Linked DNA regions of Homo sapiens: all the other regions are linked to region 1. Evidence: fine-mapped expression QTL. A gene starts in region 1. Each other region holds a variant in brackets. All regions are shown on one strand. Distances are between the middles of the regions. Region 1 holds the start of IFI16 (interferon gamma inducible protein 16). Region 2 overlaps IFI16 (interferon gamma inducible protein 16). Region 3 overlaps PYHIN1 (pyrin and HIN domain family member 1).

Region 1 (11,085 bases):
AATTCTACAGAAGCAAAAACATGCCTTAAAAGACAAATGGTTACAAGAAGAGCAACGGTACCAGGTGCAAGGTTGTAAATCTTTCATTGTAATTAGATATAGGGTCTATGCCGGACACGAACTCAAGGTTTTATGTTGTTATCTTTTTGAGAAAAAGCCTGGGAACTTCATACATTGTTGGTGTTACTACCTTATCAGTTAATTGGGCTCTTTTGAAACGCTGAGGATCTGTTTACCCAGGCCAACTCCTTACTAAAGGGGGTTGGGTAAGGAGCCCTTAGTGTCTTGTAAATTAAGGGGTCAATTGGAGTTTGTCCGACCTTCCCAGCTAGAGAGAGTCTTATTTACATGAGAAGCAAGGCTGGGTGATTAAAGAGACAAGCAGGACAAAATTCAAAGTAACGAGTTAGAGTAAAAACAAGGTTAGGCATTTCAATATAGGGTGGTTCTTAGTCCAGCAGGGCGTTTTCCCGATAACCACCTGTTTAACTACATTCACCCTTGGTGCAAGTGCCAAAAAACAAACAAACAAACAAAAAGACCAAGGCGATAGGTATTTGCACCATAAACTTCTCCCATCTTTTATGTCCGTAATTTTGTGTTATTTCGCATTTCTGACTGTTTATAGAATTGAATTGGCCTTTACCTTATCATATAATAATATACTTTAATTTTAATCACAAATACATATGTTAAGTAGAACACAATCTAGGAAATACAAGATAATACAGAGAAAAATGGAAGTATTGGGGAAAAGGAAACAGCACAAAACCAAGTGTGACGAAAAAGATAAACTTTGACTTCTAATTTCAACTGAGAATCAATGGACAAAACATCAAAGCCATTATCTGAAATGCATGGTTCCATTCATGTGAGAGTTGGAGAGACAAATGTTAGTATTCCAAAAAAGAAAATAATTCGGTTTAGGCTTTGGGAAAATCAGATTCTGTGTCTTAACAGCAAAGGTCCAGCCCCAGCAGGAAGCATGAGAACCCAAACAATGCCCTTGTGCTAATATTGTTAAGTGGAGAATCTGTAAAGAAATAATGAAGAAAATGACATTCACACAAGCTTAAAAGGACATGGATGTTTTGCTAAAGAAAAAAATATGTGTAGAAATTAGTAAATCAAGGAAGTAATTTTGCTTAGCATTCAAGTGCATGGGCTTTGGAATAAGGTAGATCTGGTTTGAATTTGGCTCCAACACTAACTAGGCGCCTAGTTTTTAGAAAATAGCTTCAATTACTGCTACACACTGGATTATGTTATCTAAATTCATATGATGAAGCCATAACCTCCCAGTGTGATGATATTTGAAAACGAGGCCTTTGGTGGGTAGTTTATGAGGGTGGGGTCCTCATAATGTGATTAGCACCCTTATAAGAAGAGGTATCAGAGAGTGCTCTCTCTCTCTCTCAACACTAGGTGAGGACCCTGCATAAATATGGCTATGTGCAAGCCAGGAAGAGGGCTCATACCAGAAACTAAGTTGGCCATCCTTGATCTTGGAACCCTCAGCATCCAGAAGACCCAAATCAACTAAGATAGTAGTCTTCTCTAAAAAGGGGAAACTTTGCTGCATAGAGTTGATTTGCAAAACAAGTGAACAATGCATATGCCACAGTCTATTGCATCATGAAAAACCAGTGTGCAATAGGTCTTTTTGTTCTTAGCAAGGTAAAGACATTTGCAATACTGACAGGAGAAATGTCACCTACAAATACTCTAAAGTGTGAAGTGACATAAATGTTTCTGCACAGCTAAAACTTTGGTATATGTGGAACAGTATGGAAAATGAGGCCAGAAAGGTAAAATAGTAAGCTGCTTTTTGTCATAAAGAGAGAAATGGAACACTCATTGTTCAAAAATAGGTACATAATTGAGAGATTTTATTCAGAATAATGCCTGATTAATATAAATTTAGTCACTGTAATAATGTAGCTACATAATTTATATATATGTATATATATTCGCACATTTTTTGCTTTATCAGGAATTTTTGTATATTCTACTAATGACTTTTCTGTATGATAGCACAAATTGCAATTGTTGGCCACTGCCACAAAGTGGGGGAAAATGCACATTTTTAAGCATTTCTTTGCTTCATCTATGAAAATTTCATCTTTGTGGTATGAATTATGGAGCATTGTCCTGAGTTGCCCTTATAGGTGACCGCAGTTTGTGTGTTGTATGCTGGAGTCCCAATTGAGGACATTACTGCATATAAAATGATTATAAGTAAAAGGCAGAAAATGTTCTGAAGGGTCATAACTTCCAAGGGTTCTCTACCCTTTGACCTCTGGATTGGGGTTCCCAGTGACTGCCTTAATATCCTTCTCTACCTACTGCCTTAAGGCCAACTCAATGTATCCACGTAAAGAGTACCCTAAAGCCAGTAAAAGATTATCACGAACACCCAGAGATGTTTATGGCCATCATTCCAGATCCTCTTTGCTTTTTCTTGACTTACTCCTTTTTTGATAAAGTTATTCATATGGTTTCAAATCCAGAATTCAGCTATTCACTTCATGGCCCTAGTTTGGATTAAAACAATCAGCTTTCTTTTGCTCTGTAGATGGCCTTGGACAGTACATATTAACAGTCTATGGGGCCCCTTTTCCACTCATGACCACATCCTGCTTGCAGATCTGCTGCTGGGTTAACACCACATCATCTGCTAGTTGATGCCATTTATTTGACATCCTGGGGTTACAGCACGCTAAAGGGCACCCACTGTCCTTAACAGAGAAAAATACACTGCTGAGCAGAGGATTAAACAGACTCCTCACACTACCGGAAGTTCAGTGCATTTTCCAGGATTTTCAAGTCTTCGATGCTGTCATGTTGAGAGTCCACTATCCACGTTTGTTTATCCAGGAATAATGCAGAAAATCTGAGCATTCGTGAATCTAATCATTGAGGTAAAGTAACCTAGTCATGGTCAAGAGGACAGCTAGTGTTAAACTCCTTCATATAAATTTAAGGAAGGATTTACATATTCATAATGACTTTCTGATCTGGAAAGCCCAGGCTTGTCAGTTATTAATAATTGGATGAATACTTCAGGTAGTATTTAAACAAATAGCGATTTCATAGCAGACATTTCCCCAACCAGGAGATGCAGTAAAGTATTGGTAGCAATAGATGCTCCTACCAAGATCTCCTCCTGCCACTGCCACTCTGTGCACAGGAAAGGAGGGGAGAAGAAGCCATGTTGCTTCTCTTATATTTGAGCATCATTTAAGGGAATATAAGTCTCTAATGACTCACATGTAAGTCTGCTGGGTAAGAAAGTTCTAATGTTGGAACTCCTTTCAGCTATCGAATTTTGTAAGAAAAAAAACTTATTTGTGTTTATATACATTTATGAGATACAAGTGTAATTTCGTTACATGGATATATGCCATATTGGTGAAGTCAGAGATTTCAGTGTGCACATCACCCGAAAAATGTTAACTGTACCCATTAAAGTAATTTCTCATCCCCCATTTCCCCTCACCACATGCTCCAGCCCTTGCCAGGAAACTGTTCATTTTCTCTGACTAACAGAAACGAAAGCTAAAAACACTGGTGGGAGGAGTCTCCACATTGTTTCCTACTCCATTTTCTCTGGGGCAATAGCAGAATAGGAGCAAGCCAGCACTAGTCAGCTAACTAAGTGACTCAACCAAGGCCTTTTTTCCTTGTTATCTTTGCAGATACTTCATTTTCTTAGCGTTTCTGGAGATTACAACATCCTGCGGTTCCGTTTCTGGGAACTTTACTGATTTATCTCCCCCCTCACACAAATAAGCATTGATTCCTGCATTTCTGAAGATCTCAAGATCTGGACTACTGTTGAAAAAATTTCCAGTGAGGTGAGTACTGTTCCTGATTTTGTAAATATGATCTTGTTCCTTCCTTGAAGTCCCCAGAATCACAAGGGGACAATCAGTATTGGTTATTCAGGGTCATGGGATGATGGGAGTAGGGCTGAGTATTCAGAAAAGTGAAAACTGAGTTGCTTGATATGAATCCTTCATTTACTTAGGAAGATAACAGGCATCTTCTATTCCACCACAACTGAGGACTGAACAAGAGAAAATGCATTTTGACCGTTGCAGATTTTAAAATTAATTATCCGAGTGTATACTGGCATAAGTTGGTACTTAGAAGAGGGCTTCTGTTATTTTGGCTGGAAGAAGTGTTGGAAACTCGGTAGCTGTGGTGGGTTCTCAAGATAGTGACATGAAAAAAGTATCATGAAAGAATATTAAGTAAAAAACATATCTGAGCATAGAGATGTATTATATGACATCATCCCAATTTTACAAAACATAAGAACAAATGTACACAGAGTAGAAAATTTTTTTCAGTTTCACAAACACAGTTACTCAAGCACATGGTGTCTTAATATTTTCATAAGTATATTGATCCTTTACTTTAGCTCCATTCTGCACCGGGTGCTAGCGGCAGAATTTCAATCATTTTGGAATTACTCTCTGCCCTCCTGAAAGTTAATGATTTTTTTTTTCCTTGTGGCAAGGTATAGGGGAGTGGAGGGGAAGGCAGTTAGGAAAAGGTTACTATTGTTTACTTTTCAAATTTTTAAAAGATGTTTTCTATAGCCTGGTACAATATTTCATGTGTGCTTAAATGGAATGTGAGATTCTTAAATGTTGTTTTCAGAATTTTATTAGATAAATGTTGTTAATTACGTTGTTCAAATTTATTATATCATTACAGATTTTTTCACCTTGTTCATTTAGTAATTGAAGCATAAACTGAAATCTCCTATTATAAAGTTTGCTTTTTTGGCCGGGCACAGAGGTTCATGCCTGTAATCCCAGTACTTTGGGGGAGACCAAGGCGAGCGGATCACTTGACGTCAGGAGTTCCAGACCAGCCTGGCCAGCATGGCGAAACCCTGTCTCTATTAAAAATACAATAATTAGCCGGGTATGGTCATGTGTGCCTGTAATCCCAGCTACTCAGGAGACTGAGGCAGGAGAATCGCTTGAACCAGGAGGCAGAGGTTGCAGTGAGCCGAGACTGTGCCACTACACTCCAGCCTGGGTGACAGAGCAAGGCTCTGTCTCAAAAAAAAAAAAAAATTTTTTTTCTTTGTAGTGCTCTCACAATCACATACATGTTATGTGTATATATAATATACATTCACACACAAATATATGTATATATAATCATGTATACAAACAGGTACACACATATATGTGTGTAGTGATGTCTGTACATGTGTGTATATGAAGAGAAATATATACTAATTATAGTACCATGAAGCACTATAAAATAATAAATAATATCATTAGATAAATTAGATAAATTCATAACTAAAACATAATTTTCTAGGAGTTGAAACTTTTATCATGTGGTATCTGAAGTTACTTTTGGGCTTAAGGTATATTTAAAATTACACAAACATAGATAAACTGGCTTTCTTTAGTTATTCCTTGCAAGATAATTTTTAACAATTTTTTTCACCTTTTGTTAACAATATATATGTAGATTTCTTAAATCAAATTTGATGAAAGTTGTCACTTAACAGGTCAGACCTTTTAGGTATATGCTGGTAATTAACAATCTGCTGTCTTTACTTCAATTTATGACACTTCTATATCATCTCACTATCTAAGACAATTGCTTTAGTGAATTGTCATGTTCTTTTTCTTCCCTCCCTTTACCATGCTGTTGTAATTTCTGTTTCTCTTATATTTGATCAGGGTTTTCTTTGTAAGACATTAGGAACACCTAAAAAAGTTTATTTTTCACTCTTCTTATCTTTTGGCTGGCAGAATTTTTAATTTTATTCATGTTTTCCTATTAAATATTATTTTCAATAGATGTTTTCTTGTGGTATGAGTCTTTGTCTTGCAAAAAGACTGAGGCCCTGAGTATCACAAAATAGTTTTTGAGACTCTTCTATTTAAATATCATTTTGCCTAAATTAAAACTCTAAAATGTAAAATTATATTTTCCCTTAAGACAAGATGAAAGCACCTCTTCTGTGCTGTGGAGCTAGATACATTTTGAAGTTAAGAATCTGGAGGCTTCAGAAAGGCTATTTAGTGTATATATTCTAAATAGTGTCTTACTAGAAACTCCATTGGGATATAAATAATTACTCCAAAATCAAAAGCACTAATATTGCAAAACAAAACATGTGAGTGTTCACATTTCAGTGAAATAAAGATTATACATAGCCTACTGTCATCCCAAATCTGGTTTTATTTTGCAAATAAATTGTGCTGTCACACTTGTTGGAAACAAGTGCTCAGTGCCACAAAGAAAAACCAGCACTTAAACAGGAAATTTCTCAGCAAAGCATATTTGCTTCTACAGAAGGGTGCTGCCTGCGTCAGTCACAATGCACATTCTAAGCTGACCGGATTGGCTACTGCTTTAAATTCTATAGGGGTAATTAGGCGGGAAGGAAGACACTGTCCTGTACCAATTAGGCGGGAAGGCATGTCTGGGGCGGCAAAGGAAGGAAGGGTTGTTTACAGAACAGGAAAGAACAGGAAAGTTTGAAGACGAACTTATTGTTTCTAGCACACTCACAAAATAAGTCAAAACTTTCCATTGAAAATTTTTTTTGGTTTTGCAATTGATATGGAACTTTGGACCAACATTATATAAAAATAACTCCATTGTCCTGCTTCAGGCAGTTTTGATATAGAGATTCACTTTCAATTTGATTCTTGAATCTTTGTAGGTGATCTATTCCTCATTACCGAAGGCTTACAGAGTATTTTTGTTCATTATATTCTTCAGTTTCACTATAATGTGTTTTTGTATAGATTTTCCCTTCATTCTCTGGACCTTTTCAGTCCAAGGATCCTCATGTTCTCGTAAGAAGGAAGCTTTTTTTTTTTTTTTTTTTTTTTTTTGACGGAGTCTCACTCTGTCACCCAGGCTGGAGTGTAGTGGCACGATCTCCGCTCACTGCAACCTCCGTCTCCTGGGTTCAAGCAATTCTCCTGCCTCAGCCTCCCGAGTAGCTGGGACTGCAAGCGCTTGCCACCACACCTGGCTAATTTTTGGTATTTTTAGTGGAAACGAGGTCTCACTGTGTTAGCCAGGATGCTTTTGATCTCCGGAACTTGTGATTCGACCACCTCGGCCTCCCAACATGCTGGAATTACAGGCGTGAGCCACTGCGCCTGGCCCAATTAATAGCCCCTGAAATTTAGATATCTTGGTTATACACAAAGACATCATTCCTAAAATTAAAAAATTCATTAATTTAAAAGTTTTGGAATCCATACCTTGCACTGTCATCATGGAAGTGTACAGGTGTTAAGAGGTCAAGAGCAGTGACACTCTGTCCATAGGGAGACTCTGAAATCTACCATGAGACAAAGCCTCAGTTGAGTCTTAAGGTTGTATGGGAAGTAGTCAAAGAAAGAAATGTGGGAATGGCTTTCCAGGCAGTAAGAAGGAACTAGCAAAGTCATGAGGCATGAAGACACAAGGTGTCCGGCATCTTTGTGAAGCATAGATACAAGGAGTACAAAGGTACTAGAAGTAAAAAAGATGCAGCTTATTCAACACTTTCTGAGACAGTATAGGAAGCAAGGAATTTTGGGGAAGAAAAAGGAGAAATATTGAAGGATTTCAGTGGAATATAAATGTGGCTTATCGAGAGAAAACTGATTGTGCGAAAAGAAATAATTAGACAAATCAAGTCTGAAAGAAGAAAAATAAAACAACCAATAAAATCATTTCAGTGAATAAATACTGTGATGCTGCACTAGAAAGCATGCAGATTTTCAGCAAAGTTATGGTTTTATGGGTACAGAGAACAGAAGCCATGGTCTAGCACCAAAGAAGGGAGGATGCTAATGAAAGCCAACTAGGGAAGAGTCAAGGAGAATAGGGTCAGTGCCACAGCATGAAACTGTAGCGCTGTAGCAGAAAGTTATTCATATAAGGTGGGAGGCTGCAGCCCATTTACACCTAGGCCGCTCCAGTCATACTGGGTGTGGGAAGATTTAAGAAACAACAGGCAGGATTTGGGGAATAGGCTTCAGCCCCAGTAAAGGATAAGAAGAGGAACCAAGGGCTTTGACACTGCAGAGCTCATACTCTTAACACTGAGGCAATTGCTTGTTCTCAGACCTCCCTCTAACAACTGGACCCAACTCAACTATTCTCATTCAATGGGAATAATTTCTTAGACATTCCTAACCCAGCAGTTCTTCACTCAATTTCTACAGTAACACATTTGGTCGTTGAGTCCTTCTTTATCACACATATTCATGAACAACTCTTTCATATGGGCCACTCACTCACATAGGCATACATCTTTTAAATTGTCTGTATACATGTGTAACACTGTATATACCATTTTCTCTTGTAGGCTCACTTATGTCTGTAAAGATGGGAAAAAAATACAAGAACATTGTTCTACTAAAAGGATTAGAGGTCATCAATGATTATCATTTTAGAATGGTTAAGTCCTTACTGAGCAACGATTTAAAACTTAATTTAAAAATGAGAGAAGAGTATGACAAAATTCAGATTGCTGACTTGATGGAAGAAAAGTTCCGAGGTGATGCTGGTTTGGGCAAACTAATAAAAATTTTCGAAGATATACCAACGCTTGAAGACCTGGCTGAAACTCTTAAAAAAGAAAAGTTAAAAGGTAATTGGGAAGAGGGAACACCCACTCCCTGCAACCATCCCCAAACCCTCCCCAACATTGATTAGAGCCCCACCTCGGACATACTTGAGATGTGTTTTCCCCAGTTTGTGACTCAACAGCTGAGACAATGTTGGTACTTCAGAGGCCAACAAGTTGACAACTTAGTGCATTCCATTACTGGTGTAGATTGAAGTATTTCAGAATGTATATTTGGGATCAGTGAAAGAACAAAAGTGAGAGGGAGTTGAAGGGGGACTGAGACTTCCAGTACATTAGAAAGATTATATAATAATAAAATCATAAAAACTGTTTAAATTCAAGATATGTACATTTAGCCAATGAATGTATCTGTTCTATTGAGACCATTTAACCCATCACTACCCTTTATAATTTAAAAAAATGCAATACTTACATGTGAGCCTGCCTCTCAGAAGTGTGATCTCCTCTCTTGTTATATCAAGTTAAAAAAAAGGATTTGAAAAAGTCTAAGTCCAAAATCAGTATATCCTTCCTCATGGAAACCTTTGGCTGGTTTCTATAATTTGAATATCTTTACCTGGGGAATGTGACCTAGCAGTCTCCATCATGAAAACATTAGTTTTTAAAACAAAATGATCGGAGAACCGCATTGGGAAAGGGTTAACTGAAGCACATGGAGTTCAGAGAACAGGAAGCATGTGCTCAGTGCACAGGGGAGGAGTGAGGAAAGTGCTGAGGAGCATGAGTCAGTGCTTGTTCCTGTCTTGTGACTGCTGGTCTCCTTAAGGCCAGGCTGGGCTAATGCAGTAGAGCTAGACTAAAGCACAGCTGAACCCTCAAGCAGGAACTGAGAGCAAATTGTATTGAAACTGCTTCAGCTGTCGGAGATCGTTTATATGTCTTCCTTTTTTCTGCATTGGTTGGGAATAAAATTGAATCTATTCCAGTAAAAGGACCAGCCCTATCAAGAAAGAGGAAGAAGGAAGTGGATGCTACTTCACCTGCACCCTCCACAAGCAGCACTGTCAAAACTGAAGGAGCAGAGGCAACTCCTGGAGCTCAGGTAAGCTTCAGGAAGAGGAGCAGGCTTCAAGTCCCACAGAGGAAGCTCTGCTACGGCTCTTCCACTCAATCTCTCCAGCAGGCAGTTATTTCTTCATGTTTCCCATCAAGTTTCAGATTTACCAAATTGTATGATAATTGATCATCTTATTGATGCTCAAAGCAATGCACCAAACACATGAGTAAACATAATGTAAATATATATAACATAAATGTGATACCTTCATTCTAGTAGAGTGGAGTGTCAACGTGAGAATCAGGTAAGTACTTTGTCCATGTGTATAAAAACCTAGTTTCTCTAATCCCAAGTCAGCACATCCCATAACAGAAATAATTAGAGAAATAATGTGTATAACATTCTCCTCTTTCTTCGTTTAATGAAACCATCTATGCCCATCTCTTAAACTGGCGAGAGATGGGCAGCAACCTCTCAAGTTTCCAAGAAACATCTTCTTAGGAATAATAAAACTACTATCCAATAATGAAAATGTGCTCTACTTCATTTGGCACTGAAAACGAATAACAGGAAAATCAAACCACTTTCAGAAAAGAAAAAAATCAACCAAAGAAAAGGCTGGACCCAAAGGGAGTAAGGTGTCCGAGGAACAGACTCAGCCTCCCTCTCCTGCAGGAGCCGGCATGTCCACAGCCATGGGCCGTTCCCCATCTCCCAAGACCTCATTGTCAGCTCCACCCAACAGTTCTTCAACTGAGGTACACTCTTCCTGGTCCCATTTTGCTTTGTTTTTTTCAACCCAAAGTAAAGGACTGATTTCACCGGTTACTTAAAAATTGCATCGATAATTTGCTAGTTAATCCAATGTACATATTGAGAAACCACTACATTTTGATCTTTTGCTTTCACAGGGATACTTGATGAACTTGACATTATCTCTGACTGCAGGAAGTTTTCTGTTCTGTGTTGTTTGGGGAAGGGAGAGAGAGCTATGCAGTACAGAACTGTCAGCTGTGGGCTCACTGTCTACTGCTCCCATGTCCTTCATACCTCTTCCCTTGGTTCACTATAGTATTCCATGTCAGACCTCTCCAGCACCTGCTAGTTTGTGAATGAGGTTATCCATACCCTCAGCTCTTTTTCTTGTAGATTAAACAACCTCCCCTGCATTAAAACTGTTCTATCGCAGTTTAAGGAGACTGGGATGTTAAAGAGTAAAGATGTTAAAGAAAACCCTTTCTGAGCCCCAGGTTTCTGTTAGCATGCTACCTGCTAGAGCCCTGACACTGAGAAAGGCTATGGTGGTGGGAATGACACTCTGTAGAGTTTCTGCAGCCTGAACCTACTGAGATGATGGCATTCTGAGGGGTTTATCCTACTTGTGTTCTCACCTGCTGTAAGCAAACTGAATCTTGGGTAGGAACACTATGAAATGTGCTCTTTAAAT
Region 2 (11,085 bases), 40 kb after region 1:
GAACAAATGTCTCTCAGATCTTCTTTCATTACCCTCAGAGTAGCTTTATAATTATTTCCTTAGGTCCTGTGCACCTTGTGTCAGGGTACTAATGTCATGGCTATTGTAAGGTGATTTGATACTGATTAACTTCATTGGGAACGGGTTTCCTAATGTTATGGAAAATTGGCCACATTGATGAGTTTTGTGTGTGATATGCGTTATTCCTGGTTTTGATTTGAAAACCAGAAGGATAACATTTTTATATTTGATATCTTCTACCATGTCTCCCTTTAAATAAACAACATACAATGATTTGAGATATGAACAGGAATAATTGCTATTTTTTCCTGAATAACAATTCCACCAGTATTATTATTACCAATATGTTCATCCTCTACATTCCAGTTTCTTTGCAATCCTTTCTCTTTTGCTCTCTCACCATACATCAGAGGTTAGTTTCACTATCCATGCTCTTAACCACATCAAGGGTTTTGATACTTCCTTTGATATCAAATTTTTCCATCTCAATTCTGTCCCCAAATAAGTTCAACCACGAGGTACCAGTCTCATCTATTCCTTGAGCAAGTTCTCACTAATACCCTCCTCCCAGAATAGATCATATTTTCTCATTGTTTGCCTTCATAGGTACCTTTCTATTTCTTTAGAGCATTTATCATAGCTATAATAAACCTATGACTTTCTTCCCTACTCAGCAATAAATGTAGGTTATAGATACCCTTTCCTAGGAGAAGATAACACAGAGGTGGGAAAGTGAATTTACACTTGTGTGTTATCAACCCTTATCCCAGCTTGCCTTTTGTTCTGCCCTGATACCTCTGTATGACCTACAATCCAGCGCTATGGGGCCTACACCCAAGACGAATGGGCAGGGAAGGTATGGGCAGGGAAATACTGACCCACGGCAACTTGAGGGATAGGGAACACTAAGATTTACATTACTATTCTCCAATGTTGTTTCTCACCCAAGCCCCAAGCTACCCCCGGCCCAGGTTGCGGACCCGAGCACCATCCACACACGTCAGTTGAGAACAGGCTTTCTACATACAGGTTTTCTCAATTTTTTAGACAGTCTTTTTTTTTAGTTATTAATTTCAAGATTTCATATTTCCCCCTATATAGTCTTTCCTGGTTCTTCTTGGGCAGAACTAGCTGCTTGTAACTGTTGCCATCTTGGGACTTACCATCAAGGCCACAGGTAGAGCCCATGTGTAGTCATGAAAATCTCAGGCCCACTGTCTCTCTGTTACTGTAATGACATACATAGACATCATAAGACAACTACTCTGTCCATGCATACTGGCTTGGAAGTGACACTTTCTAAGACCTTGCCTGCCTAAATATGCAGCACAATCATTTCTACTTGCATAGGAATCATTCTGCTGCTCTGAAAGCTCAGGATCCAAGGCAGACTCATCCACCTAAACATACACCACGTAGTCATTTCTTCTCTGGGATCCAGCCATCTTCACAGGAGGCCTGCAAAAATGGTGTCTGACCAATCAGTCTGTGATTCGCAACGTAAGCCGGGAATCCTTGCTCTTATACATCACAGCTTCTCCCAAGTAGTTTTTCTATAATAGAGTTCTTTCTGACTTTAATTCAAAGCCGGAAACAGACTATTACCTTTGATTTATGCTGTTACGTATCCTGAAGTGAACAGTACACAAGGGCATAATTCATGAACAGGGTAGGGTGGAGGAGGATTTATTCTGAGGGAAAACAAATGCTTGCACTTTTAAAATATTATTCAAACAAAGATTATAATTTCATCATCCAAACTGGGCTACTGTGATGACAGTTTAAGATTTCACTTATTTTTAAAACATTATATCTCAAGACAATCTTGTCAATAAAATTACATTGCTACACATGGCAGATCTGAAGAGAGGGGCTTCTCTCCTATTATGCTTCCTATATTACCTCCATACAAGATTTCCATCAGCAAGGGCATCATAAAGCATGAAATAGCTGTTCATCAGAGCAGACACGCAAACCCCTAATAGATCGTGGAAAAATAATAGCAACAAAGATTTATTTATTGAGCATTTACTGAGCTCTGGACTCTAAAACCCATTCTTTGTGCACATTACCTAATTTATTCTTTATAACACCATACAAAAATGCTATGGCTAGTCCCACTTCACATGTGAGAAAACTGAGATGCAAAGAAATCTTCCTCAGGGTCACACAAATAGTATTAGAGTCAGGATTCAAATGCAGCCTTATTGAACTTAAAATGTTAACATTTAAAATGTGAACCTTTAATGAGCATAGACTGAATCCACAGTAGGTGTGCAAATGTTAAACAATTTTGAAAATACAGTGTTTTGTTTGGGGTTTATTTCCATAGTCCAGGTGCTCAGTGGTGGTCAGAGACTGTTCTAATCAAGAAGCTGTTCTCCATGTGAGCTCACTACAAGCAGTTCTTTTGTGTACCTCTCTATCAACAATTGCCACTTAAAAAATTAGGTTACTGAATGGCAAAACTGCTAAAATAATGTGCCACATTGGCCAAATAGGGTGAATATTTTTTGGACTTCCATTAGTTTAATTAAAGGTAGTCAAGGTATGTGATTTTAGAGATATTCTCCAGTCTTACTTGAAAAATGTATAAAAATATAGCTAATGGGAATGCTTTAGGTGGAATATTAAATTGTTCTGAATACAGCTAAAAACCCTGAAAGATTCTGATAGCCTGATCCACACTGTAGTGATCATAGAACCTTCCCTGAGGAATTGTGAATTTGAGAGAATCTTCCTGTTATGGCTACGATCAGAGATCCCTAAAGGATGGAGATCTGGGTTTCTTGTATGCTGAAGAGCACTTGAGAGAGACTGGTTTGTGTATCTAATTGATGAGAAAGGCCTAGTTAATAAATGTCCATAAATGTAGCCAACTTTATTGCAAGCCATGCTGCCCCCAAAATAGCCCTAAGAGTTGTACCTGACCAAATAACTCAGTCCAGTTTTACAGGATGTGAAGACTGAGTATTCCATCCCCAGACAATGCAATTTCAGTTATCTGAGTTTTTAATCCTGACTGGGATGAGAGAAGGCTGAGTGATAGAAGTATCTGAATATGTGGTATTATTCCTCCTGCAACTCAGGGAAAAACAGAGAAACTGGCAAAGTGAACATCCTATTTAAAAAAGAAAAAAGGAAAAGATGTGTTTCATCTGATCTTGAAAAACATTAACTAGAAAAAAAGAACAAACATCTATTTTCCTTTAGAAAAGTGAAGACACAATCTCCAAAATGAATGACTTCATGAGGATGCAGATACTGAAGGAAGGGAGTCATTTTCCAGGACCGTTCATGACCAGCATAGGCCCAGCTGAGAGCCATCCCCACACTCCTCAGATGCCTCCATCAACACCAAGCAGCAGTTTCTTAACCACGGTACAAGTTCCCTCTTCCCAATACATTCCCCTCGCTACTATATAATGACAAGGATTAACACAACCGTGAAAGCACCTCACCAATCCCCTACTACATACAATGCTTTAATTTAACCAAATCAGTCATTTATTTATCAAGTGTGTATTTTGAGGTCCTATCCAAAATTAAAATTCTGTTTTTATCATCTCTATTCCATAACAGGTATAATTAGATGTTTGTTTAATTTTATTTTTCTTTTGGCTTACGTTTTTGTTTTTCCCTCAATACATCATGAAAATCATACCTTAAAGTAGAACAAGGTGGGAAAAAACAGAGCCACCCATAACACTATCACTGATTTTTCCCCTTTCATTTATTATAACTCAAACAATATGTTTAAAAATTTAGGAAAGGAAGGTACATAAGCAAAAATAACTTTTAACTGTCAGAAATCTCTATCTAATGCCACATTTCAGTACATGGTCTTTCTGATTTTATACCTTTCAGTATGTATATACAAAGAGTCTTATTTTCTCTCAGAGTAAATCACATTCACATATTTTTCCATAACCCATGTTTTTTATTAATATATCGTGAACTGCCATGCAATCATACAATATAGATTTAAATTATTTTATTGTACTAGAAAAATTGCACAGTTATTCCATACATTATAAAAATGATCATTTTTTATTTGGCTTTATGTTGTTTCCAGTATTCTGTGTATTTACAACGAACATAATAAGATCACATGTCTCTCAGATCTTCTTTCATTGCCCTCAGAGTAGCTTTATAATTATTTCCTTAGGTTCTGTGCACCTTGTGTCAGGGTACTGATGTCATGGCTATTGTGAGGTGATTTGATACTGATTAACTTCATTGGGAATGGGTTTCCTAATGTTATGGAAAATTGGCCACATTGATGAGTTCATTAGAGTTAAGTCCATCAGAGTTAAAGCCATCACTCACAGGTGGCCAATATCATCTTCCAGGTCAGATCACATTGCTGGTCTGTGGAGGCAGCCGTCCTGCCTCCATGTTCTGGTCTCTAAGACTCCCTTGATCCCTTCTTGCCTCCATACCTCCTCTTCCAGATCAGCAGCCCCTCCAAGTCAAAGTGCTCTCCTACAACTCAGAAACAGTGCAGGCCACTGTGGAGACAGGAGGTTAAAGAAAAGTCCCCTCCCGCCTAATTTTTCACGTCCATGACTCTTTTTAGTTCCTGCCATTATTCAGATTGGAGAGCCTCTAACCTGGGCCCCTTCAGATTAGGAAAGTTTGTGGAGTCTTCCAGTGGCTGCCTTAATGATGTTTTTGCAACATAGTGCTG[C/T]TTCATTAGAAAGGGCTTTGCAATTTGGTTCTTTAAAATGCCCCTATCTACTAGAATGAGTTCCAACTGAAATCTCATGAAATCTAAGGTTTGTGGTTGAGACTATTCCTTACTCTGAATGCTAGTAATATGATTTTTTTCTCTATTTTTATTTTATTTGGTCACTGTCATATTAGGCAGGAGGGAACTTTTCTTTAACCTCCTCTCTCCACAGTGGCCTGCACTATTTCTGAGTTGTAGGAGAGCACTTTGAATTGGAGGGGCTGCTGATCTGGAAGAGGAAGTATGGAGGCAAGAAGGGATCAAGGGAGTCCTAGAGACCAGAACATGGAGGCAGGACAGCTGCCTCCACGGACCAGCAGTGCTCAATATGACCTGACCTGGGTAGAAAGGAGTAAAACTGAGATTCTTCTAAAATCTCATCTCTTTTGGGAGTCACTTCATGGCAGCTTTGCCTTTACCCTCTGCTTCCCCATACCTCTTGATAGGGGATATGCCTTTTCTTTATGGGTTAATTCTCATTAAAAAAGAAATATTCTTCCTTCCACTCTCATAAAACAATGAAGATAATAAAATTACTCCTTACATCTTTTTCATTTCTTCCGTTACCTAAATCATACTATCTCAGTGATCTTTGTCTAGTTTTCCCTACTTTACCCAGTTAAGGTGATACTTGAGGACCAACACTGAGGCTGAGATGACTCTCACTAGAGAATGACCCTGTTTTTCCTGTTTTAATTGTGCCTATGTTTTGGTCTCTACCTTCTAAGTTGAAACCAAGACTGAAGACTGAACCTGAAGAAGTTTCCATAGAAGACAGTGCCCAGAGTGACCTCAAAGAAGTGATGGTGCTGAACGCAACAGAATCATTTGTATATGAGCCCAAAGAGCAGAAGAAAATGTTTCATGCCACAGTGGCAACTGAGAATGAAGTCTTCCGAGTGAAGGTTTTTAATATTGACCTAAAGGAGAAGTTCACCCCAAAGAAGATCATTGCCATAGCAAATTATGTTTGCCGCAATGGGTTCCTGGAGGTATATCCTTTCACACTTGTGGCTGATGTGAATGCTGACCGAAACATGGAGATCCCAAAAGGATTGATTAGAAGTGCCAGCGTAACTCCTAAAATCAATCAGCTTTGCTCACAAACTAAAGGAAGTTTTGTGAATGGGGTGTTTGAGGTACATAAGGTAAGCCCACACCATTGTTTTATAAAATTTCTCCTGCAACCTCCAATTTTTAAAGTCTTAACTTGTCAACTGGAGTTTGGTCAACTTACTCAACACAGAAAATCAACCCCTTCACCCTTCCCCCAGCACTAGAGATAATTGAATAGAGTTCATTTCAGGATATGGGGTACGTTATATTGTAACATTCCTCTTCTTAAGGTATCATCATGCAAGTTATTTAGACAGTCACTAGGAAACTTGGCATTTTATTAGTTTTGATGATCTATTCAGAGCCACCCTTGTCCAGGACAGTGCAGAGTTTATATCAACACACATATCCTTAGGATTTTGTTTCTTTGAGTTCTTCTCCATCTGTATCAATGACAACTTAATTTAATTGTGAATAAAAGAGTTGCTCTCCCAAGCCTGAATCCTGATTGTGACAACCAGAGTAAGAAATAAAATAGACTACTCTGCTTTAGAATGCAGCTATGTCTAACAGTTAGCTAGAATTCTGATCATTTGGACTCCAAAGTTTCTTGCCTCTTCTCATTCATTAATTCATCAGGAGACTGTAGAGCAACTAACTTCTGCATTAAATAATAAGAGAAATACGAAGCAAAAAGACTAAAAAAGTCACGTAGCTTAACTGCTCAATTTATAAATGGGGCAATAAAATGCAAAAAAAAGAAAAAAAGCTTGGTGAATTCTTAGGCTTACAGTGTGCCTTTCAGTCTCTACACATCATGTAAATATTATGCTTAGCTGATTTAACTTCTTGTTTGAAGTACTGTTTCATACTCCATTATACATGTCTTCTAGGGTGGCTTACTTTTAATTGTGCTGTTTTCTCTACACTCAGTTTAAATGACTGTACATATATATGTGGTTGTAGAGTTAATGAATAATGAGCTACAAACCAGAACAATGTGACTAGATAGATAGGATGATCTAGATTTGAGATCTGGGCAGATTGGGAAAGAGTGACTATATGGAGAAGAAAGAAGTAGTTACATATTGAAATAACAGTCTACTTAATGAGGACGTGCAACATTCTTTCTCAAACTTACAAAGTGCCATAAAAAGCCTCTATTCTCTGCTCTTGGGCAGGTGTGAAAGAAACCTACCAAATTAATCAGATTTTTCTGTATCCAGGCTCCTTAAAAAATCCCAGCTGTGCTGATGTGGAAACAGGAAGAATTAGGAAAGTAATCAATTTTTTTTCCTAGAAAAAATCCAGCAGACAAAGAACTTCAACAAAAGAGGCTCAAGGGAGGAGTTGAAAGGCAGGATTCAAAGACCAAGTATCTTAAGCTATTTGGTACCTGTTATTCAGGACCTACAGCTCTGTTTACTCTATCAAAGACAAAAGTTTCCAGAAACACCCTGTATTTCTCATAGATTTGAAAATTATTGATCCAGTTTCAGAAGATAAGTGTTAATTTTCTTTTGCAGAAAAATGTAAGGGGTGAATTCACTTATTATGAAATACAAGATAATACAGGGAAGATGGAAGTGGTGGTGCATGGACGACTGACCACAATCAACTGTGAGGAAGGAGATAAACTGAAACTCACCTGCTTTGAATTGGCACCGAAAAGTGGGAATACCGGGGAGTTGAGATCTGTAATTCATAGTCACATCAAGGTTGGAACTTTATAGGAACATCATTTTTCCAAGTGGCGAATCATTTTGTTTATACTTTAAGAAGACTAGACTGCTACTATTACAGAGAGTCTAGCAAGTGGAAAAGGAACAAAGCCTTGCACTTTACTGGGTGTAAACTTCCCACCATTGTTTTTAAAGAAGGATACTTGTAATCATAATAAAAAAAATTACAGAGACTTTCAAAGGCCATGATACCTAAGTTAAATAAGAAAGAATTGGTTGCTTTTACCACAATGTGGAGATAATTTAATAAGAATTTGGGTTTGGTTAAGGCACATTTGTTTCAACTAGCTGGTTCTGTGACTTTCTAGTTGACTAAAGACTTACACTAGGAATCTCAGGTTCATCATTTGTGAAATGGGAGAAATACTGTCTACCATAGAGGGTCATCAACTTAGCTCACAGCAGCCCTGAATTACCAAGAATGCATCTGAGCAAATCAGATCACAAAGGTACCTGCCTTTAGTGAGATACATACACTGGTTTACATCAGACAGAGGTAGCTGGGTCTACATAACAAAGTCCATGCTTTTTGCCACACTGACCCATACATTCATGTGGGATTCTTGGAACACTAACAAAGGCTAATATTAGAAGGCAAATAGTTCAAAACAAAGGCTGACATATTCAGGCACACACATGCTCTCAGATTGCTCCAGTTCTCAGGACCAGCAGTCAAACATTTCAAACCTTCTTTGATAGCAATTGCACCAGGAATACCTTTTGTACTCTCCCCCTTCCTTCTGCCCAATGAAAACCCTCTCCTCAACTCTTGTCATTGGGTGCACCAGCTCCTTTCTCTCTCCTGTTGTTCCCTGACATCTCCTGCTCTTTCACTTGCACTCATGCTGAGTAGGAGTGAATATCTCATTTCACGGTCCAAATTAAACAGAGAGGCATGACTCAAAGGTCAAGAATTTATTAAGGGAGATAGATGAGAGCGAGAAAAGAATCATTTAGAAAGGAATAGGGGAAGAGATATGGTGCAGGGGGAGGAGATACAGTGTGATTGAAGGGAGAAATGTAGGATCATCAGCATCTCAACTGGTCTGTCTTTATCTCTTTCTCCTTCAAGGTCATCAAGACCAGGAAAAACAAGAAAGACATACTCAATCCTGATTCAAGTATGGAAACTTCACCAGACTTTTTCTTCTAAAATCTGGATGTCATTGACGATAATGTTTATGGAGATAAGGTCTAAGTGCCTAAAAAAATGTACATATACCTGGTTGAAATACAACACTATACATACACACCACCATATATACTAGCTGTTAATCCTATGGAATGGGGTATTGGGAGTGCTTTTTTAATTTTTCATAGTTTTTTTTTAATAAAATGGCATATTTTGCATCTACAACTTCTATAATTTGAAAAAATAAATAAACATTATCTTTTTTGTGAAAGGAATGCTTCCCCAGCAGTCTCTTTAATCCATCCATGAGTTGCTTAAAAGCAAATAGTCTGTGGTCTGCAAATCAGGGTGGGGCACACAGGCCTCAAGCAATATTTGGATTTATACTTTGGGTGTGATCTTTACCGGGTAAAGCCCTGATCAAGAATGAACAGGCTGTGTTCTGCTGAAAGAAACCAGGCTAAAGGGATAAGTAAGCGTGAAATCCAGTTTGTGGTTCAGTTGCCAAGTGCTGTGTTACTGTTTTAGCCCAGAGCAGTAGATATCTTTTCAGAATTGGTCTCCTGGAGGGGGCATAATTGGGTAATTTTTCTGCCAAATGAGGCACCTTCTGGTGATGTGCATGAAGGCACTTGTCTGTGTTAGAGGAATATCTGGGCCTGCCTGATGTGAAATATCTGGTTTTATGCATTTCCTCAAAACACCGACTGCTCTTCACGCACTTTCAAACCATATTCCCTGTTCTCGCAATCCACTATAGTGATCTGATACATTAGAAAGCTGCCCTAGGAAGAGCTGCATTAGGCAAACACTGAAGATAATTAATTTTATTCAGAATAGAATAGCAGAAAGTAAGTATCTAAAACTAAAATTTAGCTAAATTTATTGATTATATATTTGGTACCTGGTACTTGGCAATTATTTTGTGACACTTAATCTTCATATTAGTTCTAGAAGGTTGATTGTTTTCTCCTCTTTACTCACCCTATAATATGTGACAAACACGGAATAGAAAGGCAAAGTCACTTTCTTAATGACCCTTAGATGGTAAATTAGAGAGCTTGATTTAGAACCCAGGCTGCTCTTCTCGTTTGGGGTGTGTACGTTAGGAGAGGGTTGTGGGGATGTGGTGGAAGCTGTGAGGAATGGAATGGGGAAGTCTACTACTGTTGCAGGAATTTTCCTTTGTTCAGCTAAACATGGGAATCCTTATCATGGGGCCATGAAAAGTTAGGCTCGCAGACAATTTGAAGTGTGAGGAGGGCAGCGTTTATTGGGTGAAAAGGAAAAGAGGGAAACGGTCCTTCTGCAAAGCCAGACTCCCTGCTTGTGGGCTTCCCACCTGGCAGTTTGAATTTCAGGTTCCACCCAGGAAGAGGAGGGGCTGGGCTCTTCCCCACTGGAAATGGCGCAAACTTCTGTGGCTTCACCCCAGTGCACACTCCTCCCAGTGTGCAGGCTGGAGTTTCTCTGGGGACCCCTTCCCACCTGGCTGTCTCATTGCCCCCTCTAAAGAAATGCATCTAACTGCCATTAGAATAAGGATAAGGATAAGGACAAAGACCGATCTTAACTGCTTCCTGCTGACAGGGGGTGCTGTTTCGGCAAAACAGCAGTCAAAGTCCCTCAGAGGCCTATTTAAGGGTTCCCAGCAGAATGGGCCATTGTCCGCCTCTCCAGTTGCATGACTGGAGTTTGATGGCCTGAAGGCAAGAAGAGACAAATTGTGTTATTAGAAAACATGTATCTAAACAAGGGGAGGGGTAAGGACAGCTCAAAAATCCTGAGGCCTTTTATCAGTTTGCACAAGGAGAGGGAGGCCAAAAGCCCAACCGGCAAAAAAAAAAAAAAAAAAAAAAAAAAAAAAACTACCCTTTAGCTGCCATGTTGGGCTTCTGGGTTCCCTTCCCCTGAGCCCAATCCTAAGCTGACCAGTTTAAGGTTTTAAACTCTTCCCAGTTTGGAGGATGCATCTGACGGGAGTGTCCCGTAGTACGGAGACACAATTGCCTATCAGTGAAGAGAGAACTGAGGGGGGAGAAAGGAAAAATGAAAGGTGTTTTTTCAAAGGAGTCCCAAAGGTTCAGGATGCTTTCAAAAGGGGTACAGATTGAAAATGAATGGTTACTCATCTAAAAAGAGGGGAGCAGGCATCCCTGGTTCCCGTCTCTTCCTAGCAGATACCCATGGTACATGAGGGAGAGAAGGAAGAGCATCCTCTTTCCCTCTTCCATCCTCACATCCCCAAGTCCCAGCAACCTTGGCAGTCAGCACCATGGGTGGTAAAGCGGCTTGTACCCATGAAGCAGGGGAGCCTAGGGGATACCCATGTATGCCCTATTCTCCCCTGCTGTCAATAGCCTTGATTCCCTAGACCTAATTTATGAATTGAGTTTGGGACA
Region 3 (11,085 bases), 37 kb before region 1:
TCCTATGTAAGGAGTTCTCATTTTTACATTTTGTTTTGTTGCTGCTTTTGTTCTTTTTGACTGGTGAATTCCAATAATTCATATTTCTCTGTACACTTTCTAAAATTACTATTTGTGGATAGTGCTATCAATCTAACCTATTTGCCATCTTACTTCAGGTGGTTAGATGGAGCCCATTCCTGGTCATTATCAGCTCTGATCCATTTACTCTCTGCTACTTCAAAGACAAACATTTAAAGACAATCCATTTTCTGACGCATAATGGCTTAGACAAAATGGAGTGACAGTTTCTAAGTTCTTTTGTCTAAATATGTAATACAGCCATTTCTACATTCATAGGAATTATTCTGCTGTACATAAACTCCCTTAATACAATAATTTTAGAAAGAGGCATGTATCTCCATGGCCACCTACACCTAAATGTATCATGGACCTTTTCTGCTTTGGTGACCCACTCCAAGGTTGTCTCACCACTCAATCTATGATTCACCAGGTGAGCAGGAAAGCCTTGCCCATTTACTCATCAAGGGTTCACTCAAAAATTTGTGTATGATATAGGTTCATTATGCTTTGGGATCTAAACCCCGAAGAAGACAGAAGCATGACCATCTGTCATGACTCATCTAAAGCATAGATCACAGAATGGCATGAGTCATGATCAGGGATGCTATTAGGGAGAAATTACTATGAGGAAAATAATCAGCAATGATTTAAATTAATATTCAACCAAAGCTAAGATCTTAGGCATCCAAATTCTGCTTCTGTAATGAAAATGTTTTTGTTTATATTTTATTATGTATATTTGTTAATGATTTAGGGGGTACAAGTGCAGATTTGTTACATGGTTAAATTGCGCAGTGGTGAAGTTGGGACTTTTAGTGTATCCATCACCTGAATAGTGTATGTTGTACCCATTAGATAATCTCTCATCCCTCACCCTACTCCCACACTTCCACCTTTCTGAGTCTCCAATGTCTATTATCACATCCCCTCTACGTCCAATATCACTTCTTGGCCTTTCCACTAAGATAACTGTAATATCTGATCTTATCAGTTTTGACTTATTTTGAAGAGATACTTGTTCAATTCACTTTTATCAATGAGATTAGACTACTAGCTTTGGTAGAAGGGAATAGAGACTAGCTTATTTAATATTTTACCCATACCTCCTCAATGAGATTTTCTACAACTGGGTCAACATAAAGCATAAAATATCTGTGAATAGAGCAAACACACAAACACTGCATATACTATAACAATGAAAATAATAATGATATTTCTTCTTATTGAGCATTTACTGGATTCTGAAGTAAAGCTGTGTTTATTATAAAATGTATAGCATATATTCTTTATTGCATATCCATGAAGATACAACCTATATCTCATTTCACATATGAGAATCATGAGGTTCAGAGAAGTTAGAAATCTCTCCCAAGCTAATAAAGATAATTAGTATTAGTTGAAAGATTCATATTCAACTTAGTCAACTAAAAAGTTTTTGTAGTTGAGGGAGTATGTTTCTTCCAGTGAGAGAGAGTAGATATTAAAATATCTGTAATATATCAATAAGCATTTCAAATAGTGTTGAATTTTACATTTGTTTTTATAATCCAGACTCTTCAAGCTTCTAAAACAGGATGAGGTGCACAAGATGGCTAGGGTTTGTTGTCCTCACTTGGAAACCCTCATAAGCAAACTGATCTTTCAGCACTTTCCTTCCATCTCCTTAAGGACAAAAGAAAAATATTATGGAAATCTACAAATAGAAATGAATGAGAGTGATTTGATATTGGAAGTAGAATGTCCTTAATTATTTTCCTTAGTAAAGAGAGTGATTTGATATTGGAAGTAGAACGTCCTTAAGTGCTTTCCTTAGTGCTTAGAGAGAATCACATGTGATTTTCCAGACACCCATTATCCTTACATTAACAAGATATATATATATATATAAAGACATGTTCTGGGAATGCCCTAGTGAAATCTGAAACGGTTGTGATTGCTGTTGGGAATCCTGAAGGATTTTGGATACCTGATGCAAATCACTGGATAAACAGAATCCTGACTGGAACTGTGCTTTCAGAGAGTGCTGATAGCAAAATGAAGATCAGTATCCCCAAACAACTGACAACTGATTTTTCTGGGTCCTGAAGTGCAAACTACAGGAATCCTTTGTGTATTTGCTTGATGAAAATGGCTTTCATCCATTTGGCTAACATTGTTCTGAAACTTACTACCCTTATAACTTAGGAGCATTACTTAACAAAAATAACTCCAGCAGAGGTGCTTGACCAAGTTAGCCTAGATGAGTTTTCACCAGAAACAGAGCCAGGACCCAATCACACACCTACAGAATTTCAGTCAATAAAACGAAGGCCAAAATGCCATTTGTGAATGTGCAGGTGAAGAGGTTAGGATATCTAAAGTTATGCTGCTAGCCAGAGAAAATGCAAGAAGGAAGACAATGTAAAAAGAATAAAAGAAAAAAATAAATTAAAAAATCAAACCAGATAGATGATGATATAGATACGTATAGATATAGAGGCAGATACATAATCAGGCTTCATCTCATAGTGAAACCATTAATCAGAAAAGTCGATCTTTTCTTCAGAACACAGATGCCAGAATCACCCAAACATATGACTCCAATAAGATAGTATCCTTTCAAAGTGTATAGTCTGCATAGGTAAAATTCAGTCATCGGAGAACCTCCAACTCTGAACCATCCTCAGATGTCACAGAAAATGTCACAAACCCCATCTGGTAGTTCTTTAACCAAAGTACCAACTTCTTGTTGCCATTCTTTGTGCCTCCCTTTATTATACTTAAAGGGATAATCAGTATCTTGACAGAGCTTTTCAATCAATCTCTGACTAAATAGTTTTTTATTTTACTATATTTCTCATTCATTTATTAAGTATATAATCAGAGATGCTACTAGATTCTAGGATTTTTATGATTTACAAGGGATACATTGATAAAATCATTCCTGACCTAAAGACATTATTGTGATTTATGATCCAGATATAGAGAAAGAGTGGAGGAGAGTACACAAAGATGAAGAAATACAAGAGTGTGTTCCTCTCTTACATTTCATTGTTCATTCACAGATTTCCCTTTTGCTTCAGAACCATAACTCACAGTTTATTTTCAACATTCTTACTCTTTCCTACATGTTTTTGTTTCATACATGGTACTCCCTTTGTCTGGAATCTTTTTCTCCTATTCCTTCACTGGCCTTTATATATTTTTGGGCCAGCCTAAAACTGTCTTCAAGCAAGACCTCCTGATAACCCCATCCAAAAATAAGACAGATCATCTCTTTGTGTCCTTCACATGTCCATTTATTTCCTTTATAATACTTGTCACCACAGTAATTATAGTATATTTTCAACCCTGTAAGTAATTGAGATTATATATGCTACCTGCTCAGGTAAGTAAAAACAAAGGTCCATGAATGAGTTTATATCTGTGTGTATGAAATCCTATTCCATGCTGCCTTTTACTTACCAGTAAGTTGGACTGTGTAGTCACCTGCCTCTGTGCCACAGCACCCTCTATCAGCAGTGAACAAGAAGTCAACTTAGAGAAAGAAAAGGGGAGTATTAAGTCTTTATTCTCTCATCTAGTTTTTCACCCAGGCCCCAAGATCCACACTGACCCAGCCTACAGCCTCAGTGACTCCCCCACACCTATGAGTTGAAGACAGACTTATTCTTTACAGGAGTTTGCTATATGTGACTGGATTTTTCTTTATTATTTTGTTATTGTTACCCAAAGTTCATATTTTCCTGAAGAGTGTCTACAGATTTTATCTGGTGGATCAGTAAGCAGGCAGTCATCTTGGCAGAAGTGGCCTCAAATAGACCCCATGCCTAATCATTTCCAGCTCAGATCCATTTTCTCTTATACTATATGCTAGTTTCTGTGTATGCTGAAATGTGGGTTAAGAAAACTAAATGTATGCCAGCATCCAGAGAGATTAGCAGAGGGAAGATTCTATAAAAAGGGATTTTCACACACACACACACACACACACACACACACATATACACACATGTATTACATCCAACTTATATAGGAAAATATTAAGCAGAAAAAACCAGTTCTTTCTGTCATAAAGTGAAAGACTAAATTACCCAAATTTATGACTCCAGAAGGATGAAACCCACCCAGGAGCACAGTCATCGCCTGCAAACTTTAGAATCACCTCACCAACTGTGGCCCCTCCTCTTTCTTCTGACACTTCCACCAACCGCCATCCAGCAGTTCCTTAAATAAGGTACCACCTTTCTATTTGCATTGCTGTACCTCTAAAATATAATTGTAGGGGTAATCAGAGTCTTCAAAGGGATTCTCATTTAAATTCTGACTATATATTATTTCATTATTTTACTACATTTCTCATTCATTTATCAATATATAATTGGACATGCCACTGGATTCTAAGTCCTTCAATACTCACAAAATATGCATTCATGAAATCATTTCTGTCTTCAGGAAGATTACTGTTTTTCATTGGTGCAAATATGGTGTATGTG[A/G]GGAGGTATCCAGACAAGGAGAGATGAATACAACAGTATGTTCGTACCTTCTATTCCAGTTTCCTTTCACAATTTTCCACTACGACTAATGACCATAACTTAGGATTGATATTCAAAATCCCTGTTTCTTTCCATAGCTAGTGTCTTGGCATATGCTACTTCCTTTTTTTAGAATCCCTTACTCTCATCTCTTCATTTGCCCCAATATATTTCTGGGCCAACCAAAATCCCCCTTCCTCAGAAAAATACTGCACTGATATTCTCCTCCTGCCATAGAACACATCATGCCAAGGTGTCCTGAACATTTCTCTTTATTTTATTTAGAACATTTATTAAAATTCTAATAATAAAGTGTTTTTCAACCACACTTGATAATAAGTACAGTTTATAGATTTCTTGTCCAGAGAACATCAGACAAAGGTGAACTAATGAATTTATATCTAAGTGTTCCAATTGAATCCCAGCCTGCTTTTGGTCATGATATGACCAGTGGAGTCACCTCCACCTAGGGAACAGAAGACTATGATCTACAGTGAGAGGGAAGGTGATGAAAGAGAAAGGCAAGAGGAGAATCATGTCACCACTCTTTTAGTTGAAGACATGTCACCATACAGACTAGTTGAAGACAGATTACCTATATACAGGAGTTCTCAATTTGTGGTCGTTTTTTGGTTTGTTTATGTTTTTGTTGTTTTTGATAAGCCCGAGAATCACATTTTCCTCAATAAATTATATGTAATTTATTTGAGAGTCAAAGCTAGCACGTCCTCTTTAGCCATCTTGGCTTAGGTGACCATGGATGGAACGCATATGTAGTCATTACCAGCTCAGACCCACTTTTCTGTTACTTAATAGACATAATTGAACATCCCAGGACAACATTCTGGAAAAGAACTTATTTTTCCTGCATTTTGGCTTTGAAGGGACTACGCAAAGTTTGCCTAGGTTCTACCATTTTAAATACGCATTATGGTCTGTTTCTATAGCCGTTAGATTTATTTGACTGCATCTAAACCTCCCTTAGCCCAGGAATCTCAGCTAGGGTCCTATGTCTCCTACACCTAACCTCCCATATAGCCATTTCTTCTTTGATATCTAGCACTTCCACAGGATGCCTGGAAAATACATCCTGTTACTTCCTCTGTGATTCACTAGCTCTGAAAGAAGTCCTTGCTTTTGTATATCATAGATCATCCCAATAATACTGTGTTTGTATTAATTATTAATTTGTATAAATTTTTCTATGCTTTTGGATTTAAAGTCAAAAGCAGACCATTCTTATTTTTCATCTTTTGTCATGACTCTCCTAAATCAAAGAGCCCAGAATGGTTGGGAAAACAAATGGAGATATTACTGGCTCAGAATTACTATATGGGAAAAAACGAAGCTATTAGTTTTATTCCCAATCACTACAACTTTATCTGGGTTTTCCACAAGAGGATCAACATAAATCATAATTCATTTCTGGATCAGGCTGACATAAAAAACTTGCATAGTCTTTAAATAACAATGAAAACAATATTTTTCTAACTGAGCTTCTACTGGGTAAAGCTGGAAGTGAAAGTTATGTTTTTATGTATATGATTGCATTTACTCTTCAATACACCTCTTATGAGCACAGTAGAAAGACCATGTTCCAGGGAAAAAACGTGTTCTGCTCTAGACAAGTTAAGTTTGAGATTCCCACAGGACATCTAAGAATTATCCATCTGATATATAGAGCTTAAACTTGGGTAATTTTGGCTGGGCCTTTTACTGAATTACATCAATAGAGACATAGTTGTTAAAACAGTGGATGTGACTAAAAGTACCTAATAGAATGGAAATAATGATGTCTCTCATTTACTGAGTATGCAGAATGACTCAGACTATTCTAAGGGTTTTTCAATAATTATCTTCATTAATCCTTTATAATCCAATTGTTTCACATATTAGCTCATTCAATTATTTGTGGTACACAATGAACAGAAGAGGGAGTTAAATTTGAGGGTGGCCAACATACCTCATAACAGTCCTAAATTACCAAGGATGTCCCTAAGCAAATCAGAACACAAAGGTAGCTGTCTTTTGTGAGAAACATCTCTGTGTAGACAGAGATGGTTGGATCTACATGACAAAGTTTATGCTGTTTGTCACATATATTCATGTGGGATTCTTGGAACAAATAAAGGCTAATATTGGAATGCAAAAAGATCAGAATAAAGGCTAACACATTCAGACACACAAAAATGCAAAGGCTTTCTGATTGCTCCAGTTCTCAGGGCCATTAGTCAAAAGTCCCAAGCCTTCCTTGACAGCAGTTGCACCAGGAATACATTTTGTACGCTCCTCCTACCTTTCTGCCCAATGAGAAGTTTCCCTTTAGCCCTTGTCGTTGGACACACCAGCTCCTTTCTCTATCTTATTGTTCCCTGACATCTCCTGCCCTTTCACGTGGGCTCATGCTGGGTAGGAGTGAATATCGCATTTCATGGTCCCAACAGAGGGGGAAGATGTGACTCCAAGGACAGGATTCATTAAAGGAGATAGATGAGAATGAGAAAAGAGTGCTTCAGATGGAAATAGAAGAAGAGATGTGGCTCACAGGGAGGAGAGGCAGTGTGATTGAAGAAAGAAATGTATGACTCCCTGCATCTCAACGGGTTTATTTTTATCTCTTTATGCTTCAAGGTCACCAAGGACAAGGATATCAAATAACTACTGTTCAATCTTTACTCAAGTGTGGAAATTTTGCCTGAAGTCCTCCACCTAAAAACCTGATGCCATTGGTAATGATGTTTATGAAGATAAGATCAAAGCACAGAAAATAATATATGTATATATATCTGGTTGAAATACTATATATATATATATATATATATATATATATATATATATATATATATACCAGCTATTAATTCTAGGAAATGGAGTATTAAGGGTGCATTTTATTTCATTAGTTTTACTTTTATGCATTTTCTTCATATCATATTTTGCATTCAGAATTTTCATAATTTGAAAAAAAATAAACTTTTTTTTCTTAAAGAGTGCTTCCATAGGAGTTTCTTTAATCTATCTGTGAGTTATGTAAAAGCAAATAAACTGTGGCCTGCAAGTCAGGGTGGGGCACACAGATTTATAGTTTGGATGGGATCTTTAAGGAATAGGCCCTGGTTAAGACTGAACTGACTGTGCCCTGCCCAAAGAATCCAGACCAAGGGGCAGGTAGGGGTGAAATCCAGCCTGTGATTCTGTTGCAAGCACTGTGTCCTGGGAAGGAGTTGCTCTAGCCAAAACTAGAGATATCTTTTCAGAATTGGACTCCTGGAGGGGGAATAATTGGGTAATTTTCTTGCCAAACCAGGCACTTTCTGGTGATGTGCATGAAGGCACTTGCCTATGTTAGAGGAATTCCTGGCCCTGTTTGATGTAAATTATCTGGTTCTATACATTTCCTTCAGCACCAACAGCTCCTCAGGAGCTCTCCCACCATATTCCCTCTTCTCACATTCCACTATATGAATCCATCAGAAAGTTGCCCAGGCAGACAGTTAACTTAGGCAAACTGAAGAATAATTAATTTATTTTAGAGTAGAATGGCAGAAAGTCAGTATCTAAAACTTACAATGTATTTATGGATCATATATTTGGCACCTGGTGTAATTATTTTGTGTCATTTAATCTTCACCGTAGCTCTAGAAGGTTGACAGTTTTCTCCTTTTTACTCTCCATATATAAAGAAAAAAGGGCACAGAAAGCAAATTTACTTTCGAAGTGACACTTAGGTGGTCTTATATAGTCCTTGATTTAACATCCAGGTCTGTTGTTCTGGCTTGGGTTAGGTGTGCTAATGTTAGGAGAACAGGGATAAGATGCAAATTAAACAATGAATAAGACGGATTCCACCTAAGATGGAGAAAGCTGAAAAGAGCCTCACTCTCACCCTTAAAATTATGAAAAAGTAGATAAATGCAAAATAGCAATCTTCTGTACTCATCAGAGAACTGTGGTGATCTGAAGCTATATATGCCCAATTAATCTAAGGAAAAGAGGCATTAAAGTTCTGCCTTTATGGTTTGGACCAACAATCCAAGGAATAAATGTAGTTTTTTTTTCCTCTTGCCCTGCACCTTTCCGATTATGTCTTTTATCAGACATAAAGGTAAGAAAGTATGATAGATTCAGATACCATGAATAAGTTTTTTCAGACATTCTTTATTGCCAAATATCATTGCTAATATTCATATGTGTGTGTGTGTCTATACATATATATATATATATATATATATATGATAATTTGGTTCACTTGGGAAAATCAAATTTTGAAGGATGTTTTGAAGCCACCGAATTTTTTCCTCATGTGCAGTGAAAAAACTGAAATTCAGAGATTGAGTGAAGTGGTCAAAATCACATCATTCAGCTAGTTAGGAAACAGATTTCATCTTGAGAAGATGTCACAAACTGCTAAAACATCCTCCAAATTCAAATTTGACTTATGGACACTGAGAAAATAACTGCTTTATATGCAAATGATATTGGTATTCTGAGCTACTCAAATACATAATATTCATATTACTTTACATAAACTAGGTATAATGGACCACTCTTGAGTATGTAGATGATGGTAATTAACAGTTAGAGAATGGGTCATTTAGGTGCTTTGTCTAATGTGTTTGCTGATTTCTCCCTGAAATTTTAACTTCTAAGGACAGTCATGTCTGTAAATGAGATAGGAAAGAAATTATCTTCCACCCGAAAGAATTAGCCTGTTCACTGTGTTTTAATTTAAACAGCGTCAACCTCTAATGCCTTGACCCCACTCTATCTTATATTTTTATATCTTACTACACATCAGAGCTCCTACTTGGGACCACAAGTAGGTGAGAATCTGGGGCTTCCCCTAACTTTGAAATGTGTGAACCAAAGAGAAAGACAGAACAGCTCACAGAGATCTAACCTACCCTCATAGACATCTTAGAGATCAGTTTGTACCAAGTGGTTCTCTGCAAGAGGCAGTGAAATAGCTCTGAGAGGATCTCTAGTGTATTAGCAAATGATTATGATTGGAAGAGGCAAATCCAACACTGTTAGCAACATTATTTCTCTAAAACCACATAGTGAGGCATGTATTAGAATTTTATGATGATAAGAGCACGTGAGATCAACCACTTAACAAATTTCAAGTTTACAATACAGTATTAGGAACTATAAGCACAGTGTTGTGCAGCAGATCTACAGAGCTTATTCATCTGGCATATCTGAAGTTGTATACCCATCGAATAGCAGCTTCCATTTCCCCCTTCCTCCAGCCCCAGCTAACCACCATTTTATTTTCTGCTCCTGTAAGTTTGGCTATTATAGATACTCTACATAAGTGGACTCATGCAGTATTTATTCTCTTATGAGTGGCTTATTACACTTAGCATAATGCCCTCAAGTTTTATTCATGCTGTAACTATTGCAGAATTTCATTCATGCTGTAACTATTGCAGAATTTCCTTCATTAAGAAAGAATAACATTCCATTATATATACACACCACATTTTCTTATCTATTCATTCAAAACTGGGACATTTAGGTAGTTTTCACATCTTGTCTATTTTGAATAATACTGTAATGTACATGGGAGCGCTAGTAATATCTCTTCAACTCCTATTTTAATTATTTTGCATAAATACCAAGAAGAATAAATCTTGGGTCATATGGTATTCATATTTTTTTCTTCCAACTTTTATTTTAGATTTAGGGGCTACATGTGCAGGTTTGTTACATCAATACATTACATGTTGCTGGGATTGGCATACAAATGATTTTGTCACCTAGGTAGTAAGCACAGTACCTGATAGGTAGTTTTTCAGTCTTCACCCTCCTCCCACCCTCGACCTTTAAGTAAACCACCAGTGTCTATTGTGCTTCTTTTTGTGTCCTTGTGTACTCAATGTTTAGCTCCTACTTATTAGTAAGAACAAGTGGTATTTGGTTTTCTGTTCCTGTGTTATTTTGCTTCAGATAATGCCTTGCAGCTGCATCTATGTTCCTGCAAAGGACATGATTTGTTGCAGGAAGTCAGGGACCCCAAATGGAGGGACTGGCTGGAGCCACAGCAGAGGAACATAAATTGTGAAGATTTTGTGGACATTTATCAGTTCCCAAATAATACTTTTATAATTTCTTATGCTTGTCCTTACTTAAATCTTTTAATCCTGTTATCTTCATAAGCTGAGGATGTATCTTATCTCAGGACCACTGTGATAATTGTTAACTGTACAGATTGATTGTAAAACATGTGAGTTTGAAAAATATGAAATCAGTGCATCTTGAAAAAGAACAGAATAGTAGCGATTTTTAGGGAAGACAACCGTAAGCTCTGACTGCCTGCGGGTTTGGGCAAAACGAGCCGTATTTTTCTTCTTGCAGACAGCCTATAAATGGATGTGCAAGTAGGAAAGATATTGCTAAATTCTTTTCCTAGCAAGGAATGTTAATATTAATACCCTGGGAATGGAATGCGTTCCTGGGGAGAGATCTATAAATGGCTGCTCTGGGAATGTCTGACTTGTGCAGTTGA

The links. PIP is the estimated chance that this variant, and not a neighbour inherited with it, causes the effect.
Region 2: its variant is fine-mapped to the expression of IFI16 in whole blood (TOPMed, PIP 0.94).
Region 3: its variant is fine-mapped to the expression of IFI16 in whole blood (TOPMed, PIP 0.98).

What each region holds. Positions count from the first base shown.
Region 1 is chr1:159,006,305-159,017,389 of GRCh38, forward strand. IFI16 (interferon gamma inducible protein 16) reads left to right here and starts at 3,603. Exons shown (of 12, transcript NM_001376587.1): 1 at 3,603-3,857; 2 at 8,357-8,641; 3 at 9,568-9,683; 4 at 10,229-10,396. The coding sequence starts at 8,377. It overlaps LOC124904432 (a long non-coding RNA gene), which reads right to left and starts at 7,746. Exons shown (of 2, transcript XR_007066671.1): 1 at 7,263-7,746; 2 at 6,203-7,176. RefSeq lists enhancers at 1-132, 3,460-3,539, 8,713-9,912 and a silencer at 6,312-6,421.
Region 2 is chr1:159,046,198-159,057,282 of GRCh38, forward strand. IFI16 (interferon gamma inducible protein 16) reads left to right here. Exons shown (of 12, transcript NM_001376587.1): 9 at 3,235-3,402; 10 at 5,482-5,901; 11 at 7,336-7,527; 12 at 8,624-8,954. The coding sequence ends at 8,704. It also overlaps a transcript of AIM2 not described here. Among named protein-coding and RNA genes, the nearest start is that of AIM2, 25 kb to the right of the region's middle. The variant C/T (reference allele first, on the strand shown) is at 4,712.
Region 3 is chr1:158,969,493-158,980,577 of GRCh38, forward strand. PYHIN1 (pyrin and HIN domain family member 1) reads left to right here. Exons shown (of 9, transcript NM_152501.5): 8 at 4,155-4,279; 9 at 7,209-7,567. The coding sequence ends at 4,274. Among named protein-coding and RNA genes, the nearest start is that of PYDC5, 28 kb to the right of the region's middle. The variant A/G (reference allele first, on the strand shown) is at 4,539.